Regions from separate parts of the Homo sapiens genome. Here all the other regions are linked to region 3. The links come from fine-mapping of genetic effects on gene expression. A gene starts in region 3. Each other region holds a variant in brackets. All regions are shown on one strand. Distances are between the middles of the regions.

Region 1 (8,032 bases), 670 kb before region 3:
CGCCGTCACCACGGGCGGGGCGGGGCCTGGGTCCACCGGGGTTCTGAGGGGAGACTGAGGTCCTGAGCCGACAGCCTCAGCTCCCTGCCAGGCCAGACCCGGCAGACAGATGAGGGCCCAGGAGGCCTGGCGGGCCTGGGGGCGCTACGGTGGGAGAGGAAGCCAGGGGTACCTGCCTCTGCCTTCCAGGGCCACCGTTGGCCCCAGCTGTGCCTTGACTACGTAACATCTTGTCCTCACAGCCCAGAGCATGTTCCAGATCCCAGAGTTTGAGCCGAGTGAGCAGGAAGACTCCAGCTCTGCAGAGAGGGGCCTGGGCCCCAGCCCCGCAGGGGACGGGCCCTCAGGCTCCGGCAAGCATCATCGCCAGGCCCCAGGCCTCCTGTGGGACGCCAGTCACCAGCAGGAGCAGCCAACCAGCAGCAGCCATCATGGAGGTAAGTACCCCACCACCTCCACCTGCCGGGACACCTCACCCCCAGCCCACTGGCTCCCTGCATCCCAGTTGCATCCACAGGCACTGAATGCTTTGGGTCGGTCCCCAAACTCTCAGAGCCCCAGTTTCCTCTTTCGTAAAACAGCAATTAATAACCACCATTGTAGGACTGTTGAGTTAATTAGCAGGAACATATAGGATGCACTTGATTACAGAGCTGGTGCACATTAAAGCTAAAAAATGGTTGCTGCCGGGCGTGGTGGCTCACACCTGTAATCTCAGCACTTTGGGAGGCCAAGGCAGGAGGATCGCTTGAGCCCAGAAGTTCAAGGCCAGCCTGAGTGACTTAGGGAGACTCCAGCTCTTAAAATACATATATATATATATAGCAGCTATTAGTGTGGGGTTAGGACAGAAATCAGTGACAGGCAGGCAGTGATCCGAAAAGGAAAAGGGGCCTGCCTAAGGCCACACCTTCCTGGTGTTTCTTTCCTTAGAATGTGGGGGCTGGAAGCCTCCTTGGTGCCCTGCCCCAGGCTACATGCTTTCCCTGGGATTAGGCCTTCCAGCTCCCAGATGTGTTCTTTCTTGCCCTGTGGCTCGTACCCACAGCAGGACTGTCCTGGCACAGTGGCCAGGGGCAGATGACCTCAAGGGGCAGACAGTCCTCCCAGACAGCAGGGCTGTGTGGGGTGAGAAGCACAGGCTCCAAGATGGAAGGATGGACACTGGGGTTCTATGTCCATTTCTCAGTAGGCTCTAGCACCCCTGTGCCCAGCACTGGCCTTGGCACCTGGAACAACAACAGATATCTTCTGAACACAAAAACCAGGTCAAGCTGGGTGGGGTGGCACATGTCTGTAGTCCCAGCAACTCAGGAGGCTGGCTTGAGCCCAGGAATTCAAGACCAGCCTGGGCAACATAGCCAGACCCCATCTCTAAAAATAGAAAACTAGGTCATGTCACTCTGGCACTGCAGCTTAAAAGACCTCCTCCCCATTTTCAGGATTAAGAAGGCTTAAGAGGCCTCTTTCCCCTCGCTCTCTTACGGATAAACACCCACACTCGATTCTCTCAGATTGGACCCCATAGCTTGCTTTCTTTTTTTCTGTTTGTTTTGTTTTGTTTTGAGACAGGGTCTCGCTCTATCACCCAGGAGGGAGTACAGAGGTGCGATCTCAGCTCACTGCAGCCCGGAACTTCTGGGCTTAAGTGATCCTCCCACGTAACTGGGAATACAGGTGTGTGGACCACACCCAGTTAATTTATTTTTTACTTTTTCTTTTTTTTTTTTTTTTTTTCCTGAGACGGAGTCTCACTCTGCTGCCCAGGCTGGGGTGCAGTGGTGCAATCTCGGCTCACTGCAACCTCTGCCTCCTGGGTTCAAGCAGTTCTCCTGCCTCAGCCTCCAGAGTAGCTGGGACTACAGGCGCGTGTCACCATGCCGGGCTAATTTCTTGTATTTTTATTAGAGATGGGGTTTCACCGTGTTAGCCAGGGTGGTCTCCATTTCCTGACCTCGTAATCCACCCGCCTCAGCCTCCCAACAGTGTTGGGATTACAGGCGTGAGCCACCATGCCCAGCATTTTTCACATTTTCATGAGATGAGGGCAGGGGCGGGGTCTCCTTTTGTTGCCCAGGCAGGCCTCAAACTCCTGGGCTCAAACGATCCTCCTGCCTCAGCCTCCAGAACAGCTGGGACCACAGGTGCATGCCACCACACCAGCTCATTTTTTATTTTTTGTAGAGGTGGGGTCTTGCTTTGTTGCCCAGTCTTGTCTCGAATTCCTGGGCCCAAGCAATCCTCTCACCTTGGCCTCCCAGACTGTTGAGATTACTGGCGTGAGCCACCATGCTCAGCCTCCACAGCTTTCTTTAACTTCCTGAGCTTGCACTTGGCCATTTTTCTGCTCACAAACTTCCCCTGCTCTCTGCCCCCCACACACACTCAGCATTCACTCGCGCCACACAGTGAGTGCTCACCGTGTGACACAGGCTGTTCCAGTTGCTAGGGGGCCTCGGTGAACCCAAGCGTCAGGAATCCTTGCCCTTGTGGAGCTTACCTTCTAGTGAGCTGGTGGGGCCATGAGCAAACAAGCACAAAAGCATCCTATCATGCGTGAGAAGATTTGTATGGGGGCAGCATGTAAAAGAGTTAAGAGAGGCCGGGCGCGGTGGCTCACGCCTGTAATTCCAACACTTTGGGAGGCCTAGGTGGGCGTATCACAAGGTGAAGAGATGGAGACCATCCTGGCCAACATGGTGAAACCCCATCTCTACCAAAAATACAAAAATTAGCTGGGCATGGTGGCGCGCACCTATAGTCCCAGCTACTCGGGAGGCTGAGGCAGGAGAATCGCTTGAACCCGGGAGGCGGAGGTTGCAGTGAGCCAAGATCGTGCCACTGCACTCCAGCCTGGCGACAGAGTGAGACTCATCTCAAAAAAAAGAGTTAAGAGAATCCGGAGTCACAGGGGCGGGGGGAGTGATGGTAGCAGAGGTGGTCAGCACTCACCTTGGTGAGAAGCACCACTGGAGCCAAGGCCACAGGGATGATGGGAAGAGAGTTCCAGGCAGAGAGAAGGGCAGATGGTAAGGCCTCGAGGGCAACACCTGCTCCTGGCTAGGGTGGGCCTAGGGGAGGGGGTTTAGGAAAGGGTATTTGGAGACCTAAAGTTGAAGGTCATTCTAAGGACTCTGGCATTGCCTTTGAGTAAAAACCTGGAAAGGATTTGAGCAGAGGCAGCATGGTCAGATTTAGACATTCAGAGAGTCACCAGGGAGGTGGTGAGAAGTAGCTGATCCCTGGATTTATTTTTAAAGCAGAACTGGCAGGATCTGCTGATGGACTGGATGTGGGGTGCGAGGGAAAGAGAGGAGTCAGGATGATGCCAAGGAATTTTAAAAAAACTATTAGGCTGGGCGCGGTGGCTCACGCCTATAATCCCAGCACTTTGGTAGTTCGAGGTGGGCAGATCATGAGGTCAGGAGATAGAGACCATTCTGGCTAACACGGTGAACCCCGTCTCCACTAAAAATACAAAAAATTCTCTGGGCGTGGTGGTGGGCGCCTGTAGTCCCAGCTACTCTGGAGGCTGAGGCAGGAGAATGGCGTGAGCCCGGGAGGCGGAGCTTGCAGTGAGCAGAGATTGCACCACTGCACTCCAGCCTGGGTGACAGAGCAAGATTCCGTCTCAAAAAAAAAATTATTATTGGCCGGGCGTGGTGGCTCACACCTGTAATCCCAGCACATCGGGAGGCTGAGGCAGGCAGATCACTTGAGGTCAGGAGTTCAAGAACAGCCTGGCCAACTTGGTGAAATCCTGTCTCTACTACAAATACACAAATTAGCTGGATGTGGTGGTGGGCGCCTGTAATCCCAGCTACCTGAGAGGCTGAGGCAGGAGAATCACTTGAACCCAGGAGGTGGAGGTCGCAGTGAGCTGAAATCCTGCCACTGCACTCCAGCCTGGGTGACAGAGCAAGAGTCCGTCTCAAAAAACAAAAAATAAATAAAAATAAAATAAATTAGGCCAGGCGCGGTGGCTCACGCCTGTAATCCCAGCACTTTGGGAGGCCGAGGCGGGCGGATCACGAGGTCAGGAGATCAAGACCATCCTGGCTAACACGGTGAAACCCCGTCTCTACTAAAAATACAAAAAATTAGCCGGGCGTGGTGGTGGGTGCCTATAGTCCCAGCTACTCGGGAGGCTGAGGCAGGAGAATGGCATGAACCCGGGAGGCAGAGCTTGCAGTGAGCCGAGATGGTGCCACTGCACTCCAGCCTGGGCGACAGAGCAAGACTCCGTCTCAAAAAAAAAAATTATTATTATTATTATTATTATTATTTTATTTTATTTTTGACATGGAGTCTTGCTCTGTCGCCCAGGCTGGAGTGCAGTGGCACCATCTCAGCTCACTGCAAGCTCTGCCTCCCGGGTTCACGCCATTCTCCTGCCTCAGCCTCCAGAGTAGCTCGGACTACAGCCTCCCGCCACCATGCCCAGCTAATTTTTTTGTGTGTTTTTAGTAGAGATGGGGTTTCACCATGTTAGCCAGG[A/GA]TGGTCTCGATCTCCTGACCTTGTGATCCGCCCGCCTTGGCCTCCCAAAGTGCTGGGATTACAGGCGTGAGCCACCGCGCCTGGCCAAATTATTATTAATTTTAGAGACAAGGTCTTGCTATGTTGGCCAGGCTGGTCTTGAGCTCCTGGCCCCAAGTGATCCTCCCACCTTGGCCTCACAAAGTGCTGGGATTACAGGCATGAGCCACAGTGCCCAGCCAACACCAAGGAATCTGGCTTGAGCACCCGGTAGGATGAAGTTGCTTTTAATGGAGAAGAAACACTGAAGGGTGAGGGAGGATCTGGAGGCTACCCTAGAGGGTGGGATAGAGGGGGATTTTTTTTTTTTTTTTTTTTTTGAGATAGAGTCTTACTCTGTCACCCAGGCTGGAGTGCAGTGGCACGATCTCGGCTCACTGCAACTTCCACCTCCTGGGTTCATGCCATTCTCCTGCCTGAGCCTCCCCAGTAGCTGGGATTACAGGCATGCACCATGCCCAGCTAATTTTTGTGTTTTTAGTGGAGACGGGGGTTTCACCATGTTGGCCAGGCTGGTCTCGAATTCCTGACCTCGTGATCCACCCGCCTCAGCCTCCCAAAATGCTGGGATTACAGGCATGAGCCACCGCGTCTGGCCGCTAGAGGTGGCTTTTAAGCATCTGGTGGGATTTTTAGCAGGGTGCTAGTGGGAGCTGGCAGGGACTTGGAGTCTGAACCAGAGTTGTGCTTGTCTCAGTCCAGTTAGGGGTAGGGGCTTCAGGTGTGTGCAAAGGAAGGAATGGTAGATGTGGGGTCCAAGCTGGCTGAGCTTCAGGGAAGGGAGCAAGCCCTGGGAAGCCGCAGCATCGTTGGAGTTGGGGTCCCGGGGGCATGATCCACACAGGTTGGGTCAGCTGGTGGGAAGCTTGGGATGGAGTTATTTGATGGTGACAAGGCCTAGGTTATGTCCCTGGGAATGAGTCTGAGGGGAGAGTGGGACAAGATCATGGTAGAAGGAGTAGCAAGGTACAGAAAGGAGACAGGGTGCTGGTGGAGTGGCAGAGGACAGGAGTAACATTCTGCACAGGCCAGGGACGACACCTCCCCCCAGCCCCAGCTGCAGACCCGTAGGAAAGAGGGCTGCGGGAGAAGACAGCTGCCAGGTGAGGACAGAGCTGGATTTCTTAACCTTTTGATTTAGTTTTCAGTGTCTCCAAAAGCAAGTGGTTTCCCAGAAAAGATCAGCAAGTGCCAGTGCCCCGCCAGAGCCACGGGGCCTCTGCCCTCTCTACCTGCGCAGAGCAACTCACACTTGGTTCGGTCACTCCTCATAGTCCCTGCCACCAGGCCCCCCTGCTGGATGGCTGAGGTGTCCCCAGGGCAGGGACTGCAGCCACCTTGTGCTGTGACAGCCCACACAGCCCAGTGTCTGAAACAGGTGTGGACAGTGGAGAGGCAGAAAGAAGCAGCCCAGTGCTAGCCCCTGGGCCAGACTGCAGGGTTCAAACGTGGCTCTACCCTTCCTAGCAGGTTGAGCTTGAGCAGGTTAATTAACTCCATCTGCCTGAGTTTCCTCATCTGTAAACGGGAATAGAACTAGTCCCACCTCGCAGGGCTGTGGCGAGGACCTGATGAGTTAATATAGGAAAAGTGCTTGGAAACAGTGCCTGGCGCAGAGGAGGGGCTAAGTGTTTGCGGCTCTTATTATTAGAACTGCCATTGTTATTATTTATGTATATATATATTTATATATAAATATATATATATAATTTTTTTTTCCAAGATGGAGCCTCACTCTGTCGCCCAGGCTGGAGTGCAGTGGTGCAATCTCGCCTCGCAGCAACCTCTACCTCCCAGGTTCAAGTGATTTTCTTGCCTTTATGTACATTCTTGGCTTTATATATTTATAAAGCCTCAAATTTCTGGGCTCCAGCCATCCTCCCACCTCAGCTTCCTAAGTAGCTGGGACTACAGGCGCACGCCACCATGCCTGGCTAATTTTTTTATTTTAATTTTTGTAGAGACAAGGGTCTTTCTGTGTTGCTCAGGCTGGTCTCGAACTCCTGGCCTCAAGCAGTCCTTTTGCCTTGGCCTCCCAAAGTGTTGGGATTACAGGCATGAGCCACCACATTGGGCCTATATTTTTAAGTTATGGACAAAAATCCAAAGAACTATATTTTGTAACGTGAACATTCTATGAAATTCAAATTTCAAGGTCCCTAAAGAAAGTGTTAGTGGAACACAGCAAGGTGCAGTGTATTCATTTACACATTGATTATGGTTTCCTTTCAGCTCTGGCCACAAAGGTGAGTGGTTGTCACAGAGACCACGTGGCCCACTGAACCCCCTTTATAGAAAACATTTTCAGCTAACTTAGGAAAAGGGAAAAGAAAGTGAACAAACATTTGCCAGCCAGCCTTTCATACCTGTAATCCCAGCACTCTGGGAGGCCAAGGCAGGAGGATCACTTGAGCTCAGGAGTTCGAGACCAGCCTGGGCAAGATGGCAAGACACTTCTCTAAAAATTTTTTAAATTAAAAAATTAGCCGGGCATGGTGATGCCTGTAGTCCAAGCTACTCAGGAGGCTGAGGTGGGAAGATCGATTGCGCCTAGGATTTTGAGGCTGCAGTAAGCTGAGATCGTGCCACCCCACTCCAGTCTGGGTGACAGAGAGAGACCCTGTCGCTGTTTTTTAAAAACAAAAAGGAAACATTTGCCAACTTTAGAGTACTTTCTGATTTTATGAGCTCTGAGCAAGGTTGGGGGTGTTCTCTGCAGGCCTGAAGGGGCTTCTGTACCGGAAGGCTATAGTCAAGGCTGAGGCCTACAGGTGCCGGAGGCGGACAGGCTGCGAGTGTCTGCCCAGGGTGGGGTGGCAGCACTGGCCACTGTGCTGGCCACTGACGTCAGCCTCCCCCGGCAGCAGATTGTGTGTGGTCGGCATGTGGTAGGGGCAGGATCCAAACCCAGCCCTTGCCTGATGGCAGAGCTTCACTGCTCCAAACGGTCTGGAACACCACTGTTTTAATTAAGTGTGCAATTCAGTGTGCAAGTGTCTTGTAATTAAGTGTGCCTCTGTTTCCTCATCTATAAAACAGGGAGAACTTCGTATTCTCCTTCTTGGGAATCTGAGGACTCTGAAAATCCCAGTGCAGGGATGCTCGCGGAAGCATCAGCAGGGATGTCCGCCCCAGCCGCTGACTCAGAAGCCCAACACGCAGAGAATGTAAAGCTAGAGGTGCCATGCTGGGGCCTGGGGCACTTCTAGCCACAGCCACTACCCTCCACTTCCACACCCAGCTCCGGGCCAGGCTCTAGGCGGATGGCAAGAGTGGGCAGGCCTGGGCACCCACCCACGTTCACACCCAAGGAGGAGCCACACCCCTTCCCTTCCCCAGAGAAGGGAGAGTCTGGCCCAGGCCCTGCCCCAGCCCTCTCCTTCCCCCAGGGAATTCACAGACACTCCCCCAGGGTTTTTCCCTGTAAATAGAACACTTTTTAAAAATTCAATTTAGGGCTGGGCACCGTGGCTCACGCCTGTAATCCCAGCACTTT
Region 2 (10,486 bases), 48 kb after region 3:
TCTTGAACTCTTGACCTCAGGTGATCTGCCTGCCTCGGCCTCCCAAAGTGTTGGGATTACAGGCATGAGCCGCCACACCCTGCCAAAAGACCCATCTTTCAATACTGCCACATTTGGGATTAAGTTTCAACATGAAGTTTGGAGAGGACAAACATCATCATAGTGGGAGATCTAAATACACCTTTCTAAGGAACTGATGAATGAAGGAAACATAGAAGTCTATAAAGACATAGAAAATTTACCAACAAGCTTACTTAATGACCATATATAATATAATTGTGAAATACAGATTCTTTTCAACTGCACACATGGAATATTTATGAGAGTCTTAAAGCAAGCCAACAAATTTTAGATTAGTAACGTAGAAATAATCTTCTTTAACCGTAAAGCAATTAATTCAGGAATCAATAGCGAGAGATAACCAGAAAAACCCTATACTTTCAGGAATTTTAGAATATACTGCTAGATACATTATGAGTCAAAAAAAGAAAACTAATGGGAGTTAGATAATATTTAGAGCTGAATGATAACAAAAATACTAGATACCAATATTTGGACCATGCAGCTAAAGGGGTGCTTAGAAAAAATTTTGTAGCATAAATCCTTACATTAAGAAAGGAAAAGGTGACTTGGCATGGTGGCTTATGCCTGTAATCCCAGCACTTTGCAAGGCTGAGGTGGGAGGATCGCTTGAGGCTAGGAATTCAATACTAGCCTGGAGAAAAGAAAAGAAAAAGAGAAAGAAAGCAAAAGAAGAAGAGAAAAAGAAAGAAAGGAAGGAGAGGTGCAAGTTAAGGAGTTAATTATCCAATTTAAGAAGACAGAAAAAGGGGAAGACAATACAAAGATATGAGCAAAAATAAATGAAGAAAAACAAGCATATAAAAGAGAGAAGGCACAGCAAATGATTTAGGAGTAAAAAAGAGACCACAACTATAGATGCTGCAGAGATTAAACCAGCAAAAACAAATATTGATAAATAATTATAAAAAATTGGAAAATTTTGATGGAATTGATATATTCCAAGAAAAATGTCATCAAAATTGAACCAAGAAAATATTTAAAAATCTAAGCAGTCCTTTGCTCATTAAAGGATAAATCAGTAGTTAACACTTTTTCTACAAAGAAATGGTGTGCCTGGATGGTCGTGTAGGTGAGTTTTACCAAGGATTATGGTAACAAATGAGTGAGACCTCTATGGAGAAAATATTGAAGGACATTAAAGAAGACCTCATAAATGGAGAGAGATATATCATTAATGGATAGGAAGCCTCAATGGCATAAGTATGTCAGTTTCTTTCAAAACTCACCTATGGATTCAATGTGATTCCAAACCAAATCCCAACAAGGTCTTTCCTGGAATTGGAAGCCAGATTCTGAAATGTATTTGGAAAAGTAAAGAGGCAGGGTTAGCTATTTCATTAACAAAGAAGGAACATCAGGCAGGGAGACTTGTGTTATTATTAAGGCTTATTATAAATTATTATTGTGATCAAGATAGTGTATTTTTGGTGTAGAGATAGTTAAATTGGCCAATGGATTGAGCCAAATTTCCAAAACAGACCCACAAATAAATGAAACTCTAATTTACAACAGAGACAGTACTGCAGATCATGGGGGGAAAGGATGAACTATTGAGGGATTGGCAAACTTTTTTGGTAAGGGCTAGACAGCCTTACGTGGTGTTCACAGTGTCTGTTGTAGTTAGTCACCTCTGCTGTGGTATTGTAAGAGCAGCTATAGACAATACTGTACGTGAACAAATGATCATGGATATGTTCTAATAAAACTTTATGTGCATTGAGATTTAAATTTCATATAATTTTCATGGGTCATGAGTTATTAGCTTTCTTTTTGTTTTTCTCAGCCATTTAAAATGCAGAAACCATTATTAGCTACTGGGCTGTACAAAAACGGGCAAAGGAGACCAGGCATGGTGGTTCACACCTATAATCCCAGCACTTTGGGAGGCAGAGGCAGGAGGATTATTTGAACTGGGCAACATAGTGACACCCAGTGTCTATTACAAACAAAACAAAAACAGATGAAGGCCTGCATTTGCCTGTAGGCTATAGTTTGTTGATCCCTAACTAGTAAATGGTATTCACATATAACCACATGGACTTTGCACTGCACAGAAAAAGTCAGTTTGGGGAGAATTTCAGACTTACATGTGAAGGACAGATGTCAATTTTTATTTTTATTTTATTTTTGAGACAGAGTCTCGCTCTGTTGCCCAGGCTGGAGTGCAGTGGCATGATCTTGGCTCACTGCAACCTCTGCCCCCTGGGTTCAAGCAATTCTTGTGTCTCAGCCTCCTGAGTAGCTGGGATTACAGGCGTGCACCACCACGCCTGGCTAATTTTTGTATTTTTTAGTAGAGATGGGTTTCACCATGTTGGCCAGGCTGGTCTTGAACTCCTGACCTCAGGTGATCCACCCACCTCAGCCTCCCAAAGTGCTGGGATTACAGGTGTGAGCCACCGTGCCTGGCCAAATGTCAATTTTTAGAAGCAAATACAGGAGAACATCTTTATGACCTTACTGTAGTTCATAAGCACAAAAAATAAAGACAAAAAGTAAGGTACAAAGAGATAAATTTCATTACATTAGATAAGAACATCTGTTTATCAAAACATACTATGGAGAGTATTAACAGTAACCTGTTCAGTAATGGTGACACACTGGGAACACCCCTAATATGGTTTGGCGGTGGTCCCCACCCAAAATCTCATCTTGAATTGTAATTCCCACGTGTCAAAGGCAGGACCAGGTGGAGGTAATGGGATCGTGGGGGTGGTTCCCCCATGCTGTTCTAATGATGGTACGTGAATCTTGTGAGATCTTATTTTTATTTATTTATTTATTTATTTTTGAGATGGAGTCTTGCCCTGTCACCAGGCTAGAGTGCAGTGGTGCGATCTTGGCTCACTGCAACCTCCGCCTCCCGGGTTCAAGCGATTCTGATGACTCAGCCTCCTGAGTAGCTGGGACTACAGACTTGCACCACCAAACCCAGCTAATTTTTGTATTTTTAGTAGAGATGGGGTTTCACTATGTGGGTCAGGATGGTCTTGATCTCTTGACCTCGTGATCCGCCTGCCTCGGCCTCCCAAAGTGCTGGGATTACAGGCGTGAGCCACCGCACCCGGCCAATCTGGTGGTTTTATAAGAATCTGGCATTTCCCCTGCTTGCACTCACTCCATCCTGCTGCCCTGTGAAGAAGGTGCCTGCTTCTCCTTTGCCTTCTGTCATGACTGTAAGTTTCCTGAGGCCCCCCAGCAATGTGGAAGTGTGGGTCAATTAAACCTCTTTCCTTTATAAATTACCCAGTCTTGGGTATTTCTTCATAGCAGTGTGAGAATGGACTATATACAACCTCCAGTGATTGTTGACAGGAGTCAGGATAAGTAAACTGTGGCACATTCCCATTTGCCACATGGGAGTACCATGCAAATGAATGAATAGCTATGGCCAATCAACATGGGTATGAAACCTAATATTGAACCAAAAATATTGTTATGGAATGCTTGATGTTTGATTCTACTTTTACAAACTTTAAAAATTATAAACTAAATGTATATTGTTAAGGATTACATTTATATATTATTAAGGGATGTGTTTATAAAAAAATTTAAAAATCAATAGGACAATAGAGACAAAATTCAGGAGAGTGGCTACAACTGCATTAGGAGGAAGAGGAACACAGGGTTAATTTTTTTGGTAATAGCTTCACTGAGGTATAATTTACATACTGTTGACGGTGATTGTGAGACCTCTGTTCTTGTCTTCTTGGTTAAAATAATTTTAACAAGAGACACAACCATAGAGGAACAACAGAAAGCAATGTATTGCAAAAGAGAAAGAACACTCTGAAAGCTGAGTGTAAAAAGAAACAGCTGAAAGTAATTTAGTGCAAAGATAAAACTCTGAAAGATACACTCTGAAAGGTACACTCTGAAAGATAAGTCAGAGTGGGCTGATCAAGAGTGAGTCAGCAAAGACTGGCTCTGAGGGAACTCCCTTTATGAGAGTCTTATGTGATTATTCATAGTGGGTGGGAAGAGGTGTGTTCCTAGTAATCATGTTCTGGGTGGTCCTCTGGGTGCACATGAGCAGTTGCTGTACATGCTTGTTCATACATTGCATGTCTCATTGCCGTCTTAAATCTCTACCCAGGGGTGTGTTTTTTACTATTATAATGAGCAAAGGGTCATTCTGAGGACAAGCAAAGTGAAAATGCACATGCTCTCTACAGGGGAAAGTCCCCAGTGAAGGTAGTTCTGCTTGGATGAGCTTGATTACAATGTGAGTGCTGAGGTTTGTTGTGTTGTTGGTGCGGTTGCTATGTCCCAATGAACATGGTTACAGGGCTCATTGTGCTGTTGACAGTGTGGTTGCCATGTCCCAAGGACGTGGTCATCTCCTTGACTATCTATCCTGCCTCAGTACCATATAGTTCACTTACTAAAGTATATAATTCGATGCCCTTTAGCATGTTCACAGTCATGAAACTATTACCACAATCAACTTTAAAACCTTCTCATCACCTAAAAAGAAACACAACCTGAATCCCCTAGCCCTTCCATCCCTAAATAATCATTACAATCATGAATTTGCTTTATGTCTCTGTGTGTTTTCCCATTCTTGACAGTTCAAATAAATGGAATCATATACTATATGGCTTTTGTGACCAGCTTCTTTCACTTATCATGTTTTCAAGCTTCCTCTATATTTTAGCATGTATCAGTACTTCCTTTTTATGGCTGAATAATATCACATCATACGAATATAC[CA/A]CATTTCGTCATTTATTCGTCAGTTGATGAACACTTGGGTGTCACCTTTTGGCAATTATGAATAATGCTGAGTATTAGTCAGGGTTCTTCAGAGAAACAGAACCAATGGGAGGTTATCTATCCATCAAGATTTCTTTTTTTTTTTTTTTTGAGATGGAGTCTCGCTCTGTCACCTCTGCTGGAGTGCAGTGGCGCCATCTTGGCTCACTTCAAGCCCCGCCTCCCGGGTTCATGCAGTTCTCCTGCCTCAGCTTCCGGAGTAGGTGGGACTACAGGTGCCCACCACCACGCCCAGCTAATTGTTTTTTTTTGTATTTTTTAGTAGAGACGGGGTTTCACCGAGTTAGCCAGGATGGTCTCAATCTCCTGACCTCGTGATCCGCCCGCCTCGGCCTCCCAAAGTGCTGGGATTACAGGCGTGAGCCACCATGCCCGGCCCCATCAAGATTTCTTACAAAAAATTAGCTGCTGCAGCAATCACAGAGGCTGAGAAGTCCCACCATCTGCTGTTTGCAGGCTAGAGACCCTGGAGACTCAGGAAAGGCAGTGGTATCATTCCGTCTGCGTCAAAAGACCTGGGAATCCAGGGAGCCGATAGAGTAAATCCCAGTATGAGGGCAGAAGATGAGGTGAGCTATCTCAACACAAGTAGTGAGGCAGACGAAAAGGGGACGAATTTCTCATTCCTCTAGCTTTGTTCTAATCAAGCCCTCAACAGATTGATGCTCCCCACTCACATAAGGGAGGGTCATCTGCTTCACCCATTCCACCAATTCAAATGCTGATCTCATCTGGAAGCACCTCAACAGACATGCCCAGACATCACACAGCATCTGGGCACCCCATGGCCCTGTCGGATTGACACAACAAATTAACCACCACGGCTGCTATGAACATCTGTGGACAGGTTTTTGTGGGACACAGGGCTTATTTAAGAAATTGGTTATTTTCTATTTCTTCAACTAGGTTTATTGGTACCTGTTTTGTTATTATTTCTAGTGTTTTATACTTATGTTGCAATTATTCTTCTATATGGATATAAGATTTAATAAAATCCTTTATTTATTTATTTATTTATTTCTGAGACATAGTCTCACTCTGTAACCCAGGCTGGAGGGCAGTGGCGTGATCTTGGCTCACTGCAACCTCTGCATCCCAGGTTCAATAGATTCTCCTGCCTCAGCTTCCCGAGCAGCTGGACTACAGGCGTGCGCCACCAAGCCCAGCTAATTTTTGTATTTTTAGTAGAGACGGGGTTTTGCCATGTTGGCTAGGCTGGTCTCGAACTTCTGACCCAAGTGATTCACCCACCTTGGCCTCCAAAAGTGCTGGGATTACAGGCATCAGCCACTGTGCCCGGCCAAAGCCCATTAAAATTATATGTAGCCCAAGATATTCCTGGCATGTACATAGAAAGATAACATTGCCTCTAGAAAGGGGAACTGGGTTGCTGGAGGCTGGAGGCTGGAGGTGGGGAGAATGGAGGCTTATCTTTCCTTTTATAGCCTTTTATACAATTAAACAAACATAGAGAGCGTGCATGTGAACAAAAATGTAAGTATTCCAGGCTGTAGGCCTAGAGCTTACCAGCAGGCTGGGTGTGGCCTGCCCTACCCTGTTCTCTGTCAGTAGAACTTTGTCACCTTTCCTGCTCAGCATGAACAGTAGGGAGACAGCAGAATTCTCATTCCACTGGCCCTTGATTTGCAGACTCTCCTTTCCTATAGCTCCTGGACATAATTTCCTGACACTCTGAACAGCTTGGATTCGGTGAAAAGCCACAAGCCCCAGCATGAGTACAGTGATGTTCCTCCCCAACTCCGCCCTGCATGGTCTGGTTGGTCATTGTGCCAACCCACCTGAGATCCTTTCAGCAGACAGCACGTGGAAGTCCTCCTGCCCCAGGAAACAGGGGTGTGATGTGGTTGCAAGGGGAGGGCAGGCATAGGAAGAACTGAGATTGCTGGACTGGAGGTCAGCCCCTAAAAAGATGATCAGCAAGCCTGAGTGGGACCGGCCCAGAGGTCTCTGGACAATGGGGCAGGAGATAATTAGCCAAGCCAACCCTACTGTCTCCCTCCAGAAGGAATACTTTGAAGATTGTCCCACTGCAACTCAGAGGAGAATGGAGTGGAGGTGCTGAGAGAGGCCGTCTCCATGGGAGCAAGACCACATGACCACGTGAGCTGAGGGAGTAGCTGGTCATGCAGAACTGCTGTGGCTCCCAAAGAGTTTTCCAGTTCTGGCTCCAGTCCATCTGCATCCCCACACTAAAGCTCTTTGTTTGTTTGTTTGTTTATAGCCTGAAGAGGGTAAGTTATTGGTCCTCGCCCCCATGCCCCACAGTGAGGATGCTCAGCTCCCCCCAGCCCCACCCACCCCTTCCTGTCCAGTTTGCTCAGGACCGGACAACTATATGTAGATGACAGAAGAGATACTTATTTGGAGCTTGGGTGAGATAAGCATGCAGGTGCCTCAAAGAAGCAACCTCTACACACCCAGTACTGGGTTTTGGTTTCCATTTGGTGTGGAATGAGTGTTTCTGAACTGTGGGTGAGAGGCAGAAAGGGGAGTGGTTTCTATACTGCTGTCCAAGCAGGCTCACTCTGTTTCCAGGGTAGAGGAATGTGCCTCCAATAATACGATTTTTCTAGGGCCATGGGGTTTGAGGTTGGTGGAAATGTTTGCCTGTCCCGGCAACCATCATTCCCAATTTGGAGGCATGAATCTCAGTCTCTCTGGGGCTCCTCTCTCCTTTTTGAAATTTTCCCCCATGGTCTCTGTCTCTATATCCTCCCTTGCCCCCACAACCACTGGATCTTGCTTGTTCCACCTGAAACTTGGTGATTGTCAGCTGTGCCCCTGACCACACTGCCACTAAGTCCTTCTCAATCTATATCCTGAGCTCTGATTCCTCTTCTGTCTGGCTGATTTTCATGCCGCCTTGCCTACTTGATATGTGCTCTGCCCCTGTTTGAAGACAGGGAAAATTTTACATGAACCTTGATCTATGTTCTGTTTTTTTTTTTTTTTTTTTTTTGACTGAGTCTCGCCCTGCCGCCCAGGCTAGAGTGCAGTGGCACGACCTCTGCTCGCTGCAAGGTCTGCCTACTGGGTTGACGCCATTTCCTGCCTCGGCCTCTGGAGTAGCTGGGACTACAGGTGCCCACCACCATGCCCAGCTAATTTTTTCTATTTTTTAGGAGAGACGGGGTTTCACCGTGTTAGTCAGGATGGTCTCGATCTCCTGACCTTGTGATCCTCCCGCCTCAGCCTCTCAAAGTGCTGGGATTACAGGTGTGAGCCACCGCACCCAGCCTATGTTCTGAAATAGTTGTATATGGGCTGGGTCACAGGGAAAGTGAAACTCAGAGCTAATTTAAGGCTGGACACAGAGTCAGCAACACACAAGACATCATCTTGAAGGAAGGATGGCTTTGGTAAGTCCCCAGAAACGGTTTTAAAGCTTTGATTTGAGGAACAACCACCCTATTAGTGATGATTATGTGTATTCTTGTTGGTCTACAGCTCTGGCATGGAGGGCACATGGGCACATGCTGAGTTCTGGGGGTCTGGCTCTCTCAGACACTGTGGGAAGGAACCACGGTGCTGGGTTATGACCCTGGAGGCTCCCCAGCCTCAGCTGCCGCATGGGGTCTGGTTCTACTGTGGCCAAAGTTTGCGTTTATGCTTTTCCAAGCCCTCCTCTGGCCAAACTACCAGTGGCTCTGCTAAGCCTCCTGAAGGCAGGAATGGTGGGCTCAGGGAGAGCAGCCCTTGGTTTACCCCACAGGCCGCCTCCTCTGTCACATCATCCTCAGTGGGAGGGATTAGCTGGGGAGGGAGGGTCCAGGGAAAGGGCTCCAGCTGTGTGGGTGGCAATGGGGGCTGTCAGAAAGGGCTCTGTCTCCCTCGCCTCCAGGCAGGGCCAGTCCCTCTACTTTCCCTCCTTCCCTCCAATTCCTTCTTAGTTTCCTTCTTCCTTTAGACCCAATAGCAGCCACATTTCCCAAGTGCTCAGGGGTCCAGACACCATGCTAAACACTTCTTTTATTTAATCCACACCAGGTAGTTAATAAGCAATCCTATGAAGTAGGCATAATTACTGCCAACTTCATGGATAGGAGGAATGATATACTGGTAAGTATAGAGAGGGGGCTGCCCAAAAGTCAGAGAGGGAATTCGAACTTAGGAGGCTCTGACTCTAAAGCTTCGACTTAAAAAAGAAAGAATGTATTTAATTCCAGGAGAAATACGTGAACACATTCACTTTGTCTGAAAAACCGAAACTCTAGCCTGGGCAACATAGTGAGATCCCATCCCTACAAAAAATATTAAAATTAGCCAAGGATAATGGTATGTGCTTATAGTCCTAGCTTCTTGGGAGGCTGAGGTGGGAGGATCACTTGAGCTGGGGAGGCTGAGGCTTCCTGCAGTGAGCTGTGATAGTGCCACTGCACTCCAGCCTGGGTGACAAAATGAGATCATGTCTCAAAAAAAGCCAAAAGCCAAAAACCAAAACTATTAGCATAAAAACTAATGTCCCCTTTGACCATCCTTCCCATCTGTACAGCCTTTCCCCTCTGTACAACCTGGTGCGTATTCTTCCAAATATTTTTCTGTTTTTGCATACATATATGGCTACCTTACAAGTATTGGTTTGTAGCTTTGGGGTTTGTTGTAGTTTTAAATTGCATTCCGTGAGGACAATTCAGTTAGGAAATGCTTGAATCTTTTCCTTTATTTACCAGCTTTTGGAATAATAGGGTGATTCTTTTCCATCCTCCAAAGATGCCTAGTGTTTTTAAAAAATATCCTTATGAACACGTGGGTTTTAACATATTTGATGTGTTTCAGTTTGTGTACAGTTATTTTTATTATTTTTTTTTGATGCTCAAATTGTCCCTTATTTGGTCAAGTTGACTCTTGACCCCTCTAGTCAAAGGCTTTACTTTTTTTTAAATTTCGAGGTTCTGGGGGGGAACATGTGGTATTTGGTTACATAAATTAGTTTTTAGTGGTGATGTCTGAGATTTTGGTGTACCTATCATCTCAGCAGTGTACTCGGTACCCAATGCGTAGTCTTTTTTTTTTTTTTTTTTTTTTTTTTTGTGATGGAGTCTCACTCTATCGCCCAGGCTGGAGTGCAGTGGCACGATCTCTGCTCACTGCAACCCCTGCCTCCCGGGTTCAAGCAATTCTCATGCCTCAGCCTCCCAAGTGGGTGGGATTACAGGCACCTGCCACTATACCCAGCTAATTTTAGTATTTTTAGTAGAGATGGGGGTTTCACCATGTTGGCCAGGCTGGTCTCAAACTTCTGACCTCAGGCAATCCACCCATCTCGGCCTCCTGAAATGCTGGGATTATAGGCGTGAGCCACCACACCCAGCCCCAGTGTGTAGTCGTTTATTCCTCACCCACTCCCACCCTTTTCCCTCAGTCTTCAGAGTCCGTTGTATGATTCTTATGCCTTTGCGTCCTCATAGCTTAGCTCCCACTTACGAGTGAGAACATAGGATGTTTGATTTTCCATTACTGAGTTATTTCACTTAGAATAATGATCTCCAATTCCATCCAAATTACTTCAAATGAAAGGCTTTACTTTTAACTATAGCTCCCCACCAGACTTTGAGTTGGCTGGCACTCTCACCACCCTCGGCAGCAGTTCAACTCCTTTGTGGCTTGG
Region 3 (8,000 bases):
AAAAGAGGTTTAATTGGTTCATGGTTCCGCAGGCTGTACAGGAAGCCTGGGGGAGGCTTCAGGACATTTCAGTCATGGCAGAAGGAAAAAGGGGAGTGAGCACCTCACATGGCCAGAGCAAGAGAAAGGGAGAAAGGGGAGAGGTGCTACACACTTTTAAACAACCAGATCTCCCAAGCATTAACTCACTATCAGAGAGCAGCACTGAGGGGGAAATTCGCCCCTGTGATCCAGTCACCTCCCACTAGGCCCCACCTCCAACATTGGGGATTACAATTTGACAACAGATTTGGGTGGGGACACAGATCCAAACCATATCACCCTGTCTCAAAAAAATAAAAAAGATTAACAGGAGAAAAGCATACACATTTCTTTAATACAAGTTTTACTGGCATAGGTGAGGCAGAAATTTAAAAATAATAATAAGTACTGCATTCATTCACTCCAAGAAAAGTAAAAGCCAAAGCCCAGAATGTGGCAAGGCAATGGTTAAAAAGAAAAGAAGAGCAAGTTTTCCTCTGCCTAGCAAGCTCACTTCAAGGACAGTTATAAGATAATGCTGTTTGAGAAGTCAAAACCAAAGGAATAGGCTCCAGATGCCCCACCTCCGGAGTAAAGGTGAAAGAAAAAAAAAAAAGGACAAAATATCTGGCTAAAAGAAATTTAGCCAGTTCTTGTTTTTACTTTCAATGCAGCTACAAGGCCACCAGCTATGCAAGGCCACAAGTTATGCCATGTCATCAGTTATGCTATAGATTATGTGACCTGTCATTATATGATTAACTGCCTTTGCTTTGCTGCTTCTGTAAATTTGCTTATAAAAATCCTGCTTGGTCTTTGTTCAAGGCTCAGTTTTTTGGATGTGAACCCACTGAGCTGGTGTGCACCTTAAAATAAATATCCTCCTGTATTCACCTATACTGGTCTCTCCTTTTTTTTTTTTTTTAGACAGAGTCTCGCTGTCGCCCAGGCTGAAGTGCAGTGGCGCGATCTCGGCTCACTGCAGGCTCCGCCCCCCGGGGTTCACGCCATTCTCTTGCCTCAGCCTCCCGAGTAGCTGGGACTACAGGCACCCGCCACCTCGCCCGGCTAATTTTTTGTATTTTTAGTAGAGACGGGGTTTCACTGTGTTAGCCAGGATGGTCTCGATCTCCTGACCTCGTGATCCACCCGCCTCGGCCTCCCAAAGTCCTGGGATTACGGGCGTGAGCCACCGCGCCCGGCCTATACTGGTCTCTCTACTCCTCTGCGTCCTGCAACACAGGAGCCCTCATAAGGAAATGAAGACCCAAAGAAGTAGTTGGTGTCAGTTACTTCTACACCGAATTGGACAAAGAATAGTAAGTTGTAATGAAGCAACTAAGAGCGGGGCCCGGTAGCTCACGCCTGTAATCTCAGCACTTTGGGAGGCCAAGGAGGGAGGATCACTTGAGTCCAGGAGTTTGAGACCTTGTCTCTATTTAAATAAAAATAAAAATTAAAAAGATGCAACTAAATTATGTGGGGAGGCTTACCAGATAACAGTTATTTTCCTGGAGAACATTACGTTCAGTGAAATAAGCCAGGCACAGAAAGACACATACTTTGTGATCTCACTTATATATGGAATCTAAAAAAATGGAACCCACGAGTAGGGAGTAGAATGGCAGTTACGGCGGTTGGGGGGAACAGGGGGGTGTCAGGGAGATGTTGGTCAAAGGGTACAAAATTTCTGTTAGGAGGAATAGAGGAATAAGTTCACCAGATCTATTGCACAACATGGTGATTATAGTAAATAACAATGTACTATGTTCTTGAAAATTACGGAGAGGTTTTGTGTTCTCACCACAAAAGAAGTATGTGAGGTAATGCATATGTTAATTAGCTCGATTTAGTTATTCCACAATGTATACATATTTCAAAACAACATGTTGTACATGACAAATACGTGGCAATTTTTGTCAATTAAAAAGTAAAAAATGGGCCGAGTGGTGGCTCACGCCTGTAATCCCAGCCCTTTCGGAGGCTGAGGCAGGTGGGTCATTTGGGGCCAGGAGTTCGTGACCAGCATGGTCAACATGCTGAAACCCTGTCTCTACTAAAAATACAAAAATTAGCTGGGCGCGGTGGTGCACGTCTGTAATCCCAACTACTCCGGAGGCTGAGGCAGGAGAATCGCTTGCCCGGAAGGCAGAGGTTGCAGTGAGCTGAGATAGAGCCACTGCACTCCAGCCTGGGTGACAGAGTGAGACTGTCTCAAAAAAAAAAAAACAAAAAACCCCAAAAAGTAAAAAATGAAAAAAGTTATTTCAACAAGGTCTGTACAGAATTCTTTCCGTCTCAACATCTCCTCTTTGAGGATAAGGATGTTGCTTTTTCTTCTAGTATAAGGAAGGTGTCCTTCAACATGGAAATTTCATCTGCTTTTAAGACACAGAAAAGGGGTCTTCTTGCACCTGCTGAGTTTTAAATGCCTTTAATTCAAAACAGCCAATATGCCATGGTGGTGTGTATATACACACACACACACACACACACACATATACACACATATATACACATATATATACACACATATATATGCACACATATATATACACACATATATACACACATATATACACACATATATACACACATATATACACACATATATATACACATATATACACATATATACACACATATATATACACACACATATATACACATATATACACATATATACACATATATATACACACATATATACACACATATATATACACACATATACACACATATATACACATATATACACACATATACACATATACATATATACACACATATATACACACATATATACACATATATACACATATATACACACATATATACACACATATATATACACATATATATACATATATATACACACATATATATATTTTGAGACTGAGTTTCGCTTTGTTGCACAGGCTAGAGTGCAGTGGCGCGATCTTGGCTCACTGCAACCCCCACCTCCCGGGCTCAAGTGATTCTCCTGCCTCAGCCTCCCGAGTAGCTGGGACTACAGGCGCATGCCTCCACGCCCGGCTAATTTTTTGCATTTTTAGTAGAGACGGGGTTTCATCGTGTTAGCCAGCATGGTCTCGATCTCTTGACCTCGTGATCTGCCCGCCTCGGCCTCCCAAAGTGCTGAGATTACAGGCGTGAGCCACCGCGCCCGGCCCTTGGTGGTATATTTTTAACTCCTTCAGTTTTTAAACTATAAGCCCATTCTTGAGTGAAGGCGAAAGTAAACCCATCATGGCCCTGCAGTGTGATGTGTGTGCAGAGGTCGAGTGTGTGCGACTCCTGGATGCTGGGCGCGCAGGGCATGGGTGAGGCGGGAAGAGGCGGTGCCGGGGGCGCGGGCGTCCTGCAGTCGCCGGGCTCGGGACCGGGGCCGGGCGCTCTGCGAGGCTCTCATTAGCCGGCGGCGCGGGGAGGGGCCGGGTGACCTCACGCCGGCCCGGCCACCGCGGCCATTAGACCCGGTCCAATTGCTGGGGCTGCAGCGCTGCCTCCGAGACCGCGAGGTGGGTGGATCGGGTCTTCCTGGAAGGGTGCGATAAGGCCGGGCGAGGTGCCTGGGATGCTTCTCCCCTTCCGCGAGGAAGAGATCTAATTGGGTAGGGCGGGTGTAGACTAGCCTGCCGAGCCGCCCGCTGGCACCTGCAGCCTCCTGGGCGCCCGCCGGGCCCCGGCGAGAAAGTTGTTAAAGGGAGCGAGGTGGTTGTTCCTGGGGTCCGAGGCGCGCCTCTCACGCCCTGCCCAACAGAAGCCGCAGTCCCGTGGGGTCTGGAGACGCAGTTTCCTGTTAATGACAATAAATCCCTGCTCCCCCTGCCTCAGACATCTACGCAGCGAAATCGAGCCTGGCCTTGAGGGTCCACACCGCGAGGGAAGATGCGTGCGCCCATTGTAAGTGCGGGGCGAGGCGGGGCTGGGCGGGGCTGGGAGCCCCCTGTTAGTGGGGACTCGTTGTCTCGGAGCCTGAATTACTGCTTCCGAGAGAGGAGCCTCGAGGATGTGGGGCCCGCACCTCTGTCAGCTGCGAGGCATCGGTGTCAGCTGCGGGTCGGCGCGCACCTGTTGGGAGTTGTCTCGGCGCGTCCTTCCGGGGGCCGGTGTGGGGGCGCCCTGCCTGAAACGCGCCCAGCGGAAGGCGGGACCCTCAGGAGGGAGGTGGCCAGGGCAGGTCTGTCCGCAGAAATCTGGCGCTGCCCTCCGGAGCCACACCCGGACAGCGGGACAGGCCTTGGGGGCTATGTCAGCTGACTCATCCCATGACCAGCCCTGCCAGCGGAGTCCCAGCGTTAACTGTGCTTGGCGACTGCCCCCCTTCCGCCTGGCCGGACCGCAGCAGAGGGATTCAGAGGATGGGATTTGGAGGTGGACCCTCCTAGTGTTGAGCATCTGGTTGTGAGACTCTCATCAAGTTCAAATCCACTGTTTCCCAGAGTGAAGGTTTTGTTTTATTTATTTATTTTTATTTTTATTTTTATTTTTTGAGACGGAGTCTCGCTCTGTCACCCAGGCTGGAGTGCAGTGGCATGATCTCGGCTCACTGCGACCTCCGCCTCTCGGGTTCAAGCGATTCTCCTGCCTCAGCCTACCGAGTAGCTGGGAGTACAGGCGCCCGCCACTACGCCTGGCTAATTTTTTGTATTTTTAGTGGAGACGGGGTTTCACCGTGTTAGCCAGGATGGTCTCGACTTCCTGACCTCGTGCTCCGCCCGCCTCGGTCTCGCAAAGTGCTGGGATTACAGGCGTGAGCCACCGAGCCCTGCCGCAGAGTGAAGATTATATCACTTAATACTCAGAAAGTGCCCAGAACAATGCCTAGCACACATTTTGAGTGCTCAACCATAATTCACTGTTGTTATTATCTCAGTCCATATAAAGAGTTTTGCCTGGTGTCAGGGTGTATCTGGCATGTTTGTTTGACACCTGGAGTGGTCACTTTTTAATATCATTCTCTATCTGATAACATTATTTTTAGCAATAATCATGCAATGAATAGTAATAATGTCCAGAAAGAAACACAGTGAGCATTTTCTTTTATTGAACCTCGTATATGTAATCATGACAGTAAAAACCTTATATATGTAATCATGAGAGTAAAAAAATTAAAAATGAAAAAGTAAATGTGAGTGCAAAAGCAGGAAAAAAAATGGATTAGTAGGTTTTAATCACATTAATGTATTTTTGAAAAAAGGAAAAACTTAGATGTAGGATGGTATCAGAGATGAATAATAGTAACACTACAACTTCTGTTTTTGAAACTTCTGAAAAGTTGTCCATGACATTGTCAAAATCAATCTTTGCATATTCATGGTCAGTATTCAGGGGAGCTATATCTACTAGTCCATCTTTGCTCCCAGTTGATTGAAGAACACTTTTTATTAATTTTAATTTCAAAAGCTGCTTTCATATAAAACTAGAGAGACAAAGGAAAAGCCTTAACCATCAGGATTAGTTTGGCAGAGATTTATAAAAATCCCATTTCATAATAAATTCCAGACATTGCAATACTGCCTAAATCTTTTTTTCTTTAATCAGTTCTACAGCTTAAATATCTCCTTTTTAGAGACATTTTCACTAAGACAGGCTGGGTGCAGTGATTCATTACTGTAATTCCAGCACTTGGGGAGGCCAAGGTGGGAGGATCACTTGAGCCTAGGAGTTTGAAACTACCCTGGGTAATATAGCAAGACCCCATCTCTAAAAACAAAACAACAACAAAATCTTCACCAGACAGTTCATCATACTTTTTTTTTTTGAGATGGAGTTTCACTCTTGTTGTCCAGGCTGGAGTGCAATGGCGTGATCTCGGCTCGCTGCAACCTCCGCCTCCTGGGTTCAAGCGAGTCTCCTGCTTCAGCCTCCCAAGTAGCTGGGATTACAGGCATGCGCCACCGCGCCTGGCTAATTTTGTATTTTTAGTAGAGACAGGGTTTCTCCATGTTGGTCAGGTTGGTCTCGAACCCCTGACCTCAGGTGATGTGCCCGCCTCGGCCTCCCAAAGTGCTGGGATTACAGGCGTGAGCCACCGCGCCCGGCCCATCATACATTTCAATTATATTTGGCAAAATTCCCCAAGTTTTTCTTCTGCAAAAATCAGAGAAAATGGCTGAGTGATAGTGAACCTTGACATTTATTTAATCCATTGCTTTAGAAATGATGAAAATCACCCAGGCTTTCAAACATCATTCTTTTAGTTTCTTTTGGCACTGGGAGACAGGCTGTTTTATGTTTAAACACAGGAAAATGCAGGACCACAGAGATTGGCTACATAAACTGTATAAATGGAGTTCAAATTATTCTGAGCCTTTAGGAACTGATTGTTGAAACAGAACTTATGGCTGAGTCTGTGTGTTTCAGGAACTGATAACTGCGTGTTCTCTGATTTAACTTGTAGAAGACAAAAGTTTTAGAAGGATAAGAAATAAAAATGTGCTAATTGGTGGCTCACATGTATATGATTAAATCTCAATGGTAACTGCAGCAATTAGAATTTAGGTGAATAAGACATTTTTTGGGGGAGTGGTATTTTATCACTGACATTGTTTAAAATGGCCAGCACATGGTAGTAATAAAAGGCAGACCGACTTTTGATAGGTTTTATTATTGTTTTAAAATTCCCTTTGGGCCAGACGTGTGGTTCATGTCTGTAATTGCAGCACTTCGAGAGGCCAAGGTGGTAGATCACTTGAGCCCGGGAGGTCGAGGCTGCAGTGAGCCGAGATTGCGCCAGTGCACTCCAGCCTGGGTGACAGAGCGAGAGCCTGCAGAAAAAAACAAAACACAATAAAACAAAAAACTCCAAACAAAACTATCCTCTACAGCAATCTTGCTCCTATTTGTCTACAGTGGGGAAGGACATCCTGCCTCCCCACTGTGGGCTTTTGCGGCTTTTATGTTAGTTGTTGTAGCCGCCCCCAGGAGCCTCCTGGGGGATCGAAGAGGGTGTGTCCACAGTTTCCTGAGCCCTTTAGTTCAGCCTGTGATGCCTCCTGCTGTGATTATTTCTCTCCTCTCTGTGTTCCAAATTTGCTAGAATGAGTGGGCGGGGAGCCTTTCCCTTCCCTCCTCCACCTGCGCCATCCTTGAATCTGTGGCTTGTTGAGCAGCTGCTGCCAAGGAAATGAAACCCCAAAGTGAAACTGAGGCTCCATAATATGAGGAAATTGATAGGCCTTCCCTGTTCTCTGAGTCTAGACTCCGTCATTGACTGCTCTGTGATCTGAGTTTGCTTGATTTTCTGATGGATCTGTGTGGAACTAGTTAAGGTGCAAAGGGGAGGGGAGAGAAGAAGAGAAGAGGACCCTTCTTAAATAGCAGTTGGGGCTTCAGGCCTTCCAGGGTTTCATCCCTATTCAGCCACGGGCTGAGAGGGGCTGGAGGAGGAAGCCGTGCATCCCTCCACCATACACCTCTGCTGAGAACATTGTCAGTGCCAGGCTGGATAATGGTGAATTAGACGGAATTCTGGTCCTTGGAATGCTGGCAGGCTGGGCAAGGAAATTGATCGCTTCTTCCCACAGGCTAGGCTTAACAATGAATCATCCAATAATAGGGCTATGGCTTGGCTGTGGAGGCAGCAGCAACTCGCTTTGCTGAGGCATCAGGGGATGCATTGAGGAGTGGACATGTTGAGCCCATCTCGAGGGATGAGTAGGAATCTTCCAGGTGAACGGCAAAAGGGCATTTCAGGCCGAGAGTGCGGTGAGGCAGAGGCCAGTTTTGCCATGGGAGCACAGTTGTTGAACGTCAGTACCTTGGAGTGAATTACTTGGTGTGGTGGGAAGAACCTCACCTTTAAGCTCAGGCAGATCTGCTGCGGAATCCTGGTGCTACTTTTCGGGGAGCTCCGAGACCTTAGGGAAGTTAATTCCCATCTCTGAGCTCAGTTTCCCGATTGGTAACATGGGGCTCTTATAAGGATTCCAGGTAACAGGTGAAAACCCCCAGTAGTGCTTGGTGGTAGTGGT

Evidence for each region. PIP is the estimated chance that this variant, and not a neighbour inherited with it, causes the effect.
Region 1: its variant is fine-mapped to the expression of PLAAT3 in whole blood (INTERVAL, PIP 0.97).
Region 2: its variant is fine-mapped to the expression of PLAAT3 in monocytes after Pam3CSK4 (Quach 2016, PIP 0.95).

What each region holds. Positions count from the first base shown.
Region 1 is chr11:64,276,587-64,284,618 of GRCh38, reverse strand. It overlaps BAD (BCL2 associated agonist of cell death), which reads left to right. Exons shown (of 4, transcript NM_032989.3): 2 at 243-437. The coding sequence starts at 251. It also overlaps a transcript of GPR137 not described here. Among named protein-coding and RNA genes, the nearest start is that of BAD, 4.1 kb to the left of the region's middle. RefSeq lists a silencer at 1-74 and enhancers at 5,509-6,010, 7,537-8,032. The variant A/GA (reference allele first, on the strand shown) is at 4,498.
Region 2 is chr11:63,561,067-63,571,552 of GRCh38, reverse strand. PLAAT2 (phospholipase A and acyltransferase 2) reads left to right here and starts at 8,174. Exons shown (of 4, transcript NM_017878.2): 1 at 8,174-8,237. The coding sequence starts at 8,229. RefSeq lists enhancers at 3,899-3,988, 3,999-4,048, a cis regulatory region at 3,841-4,368 and a silencer at 7,138-7,217. The variant CA/A (reference allele first, on the strand shown) is at 4,797.
Region 3 is chr11:63,609,927-63,617,926 of GRCh38, reverse strand. It overlaps PLAAT3 (phospholipase A and acyltransferase 3), which reads left to right and starts at 3,494. Exons shown (of 5, transcript NM_001128203.2): 1 at 3,494-3,542; 2 at 3,859-3,927. The coding sequence starts at 3,913. It overlaps LNCROPM (lncRNA regulator of PLAAT3 mediated phospholipid metabolism), which reads right to left and starts at 1,619. Exons shown (of 4, transcript NR_199012.1): 1 at 1,515-1,619. RefSeq lists silencers at 3,282-3,341, 3,362-3,441 and enhancers at 5,438-5,938, 6,692-7,201.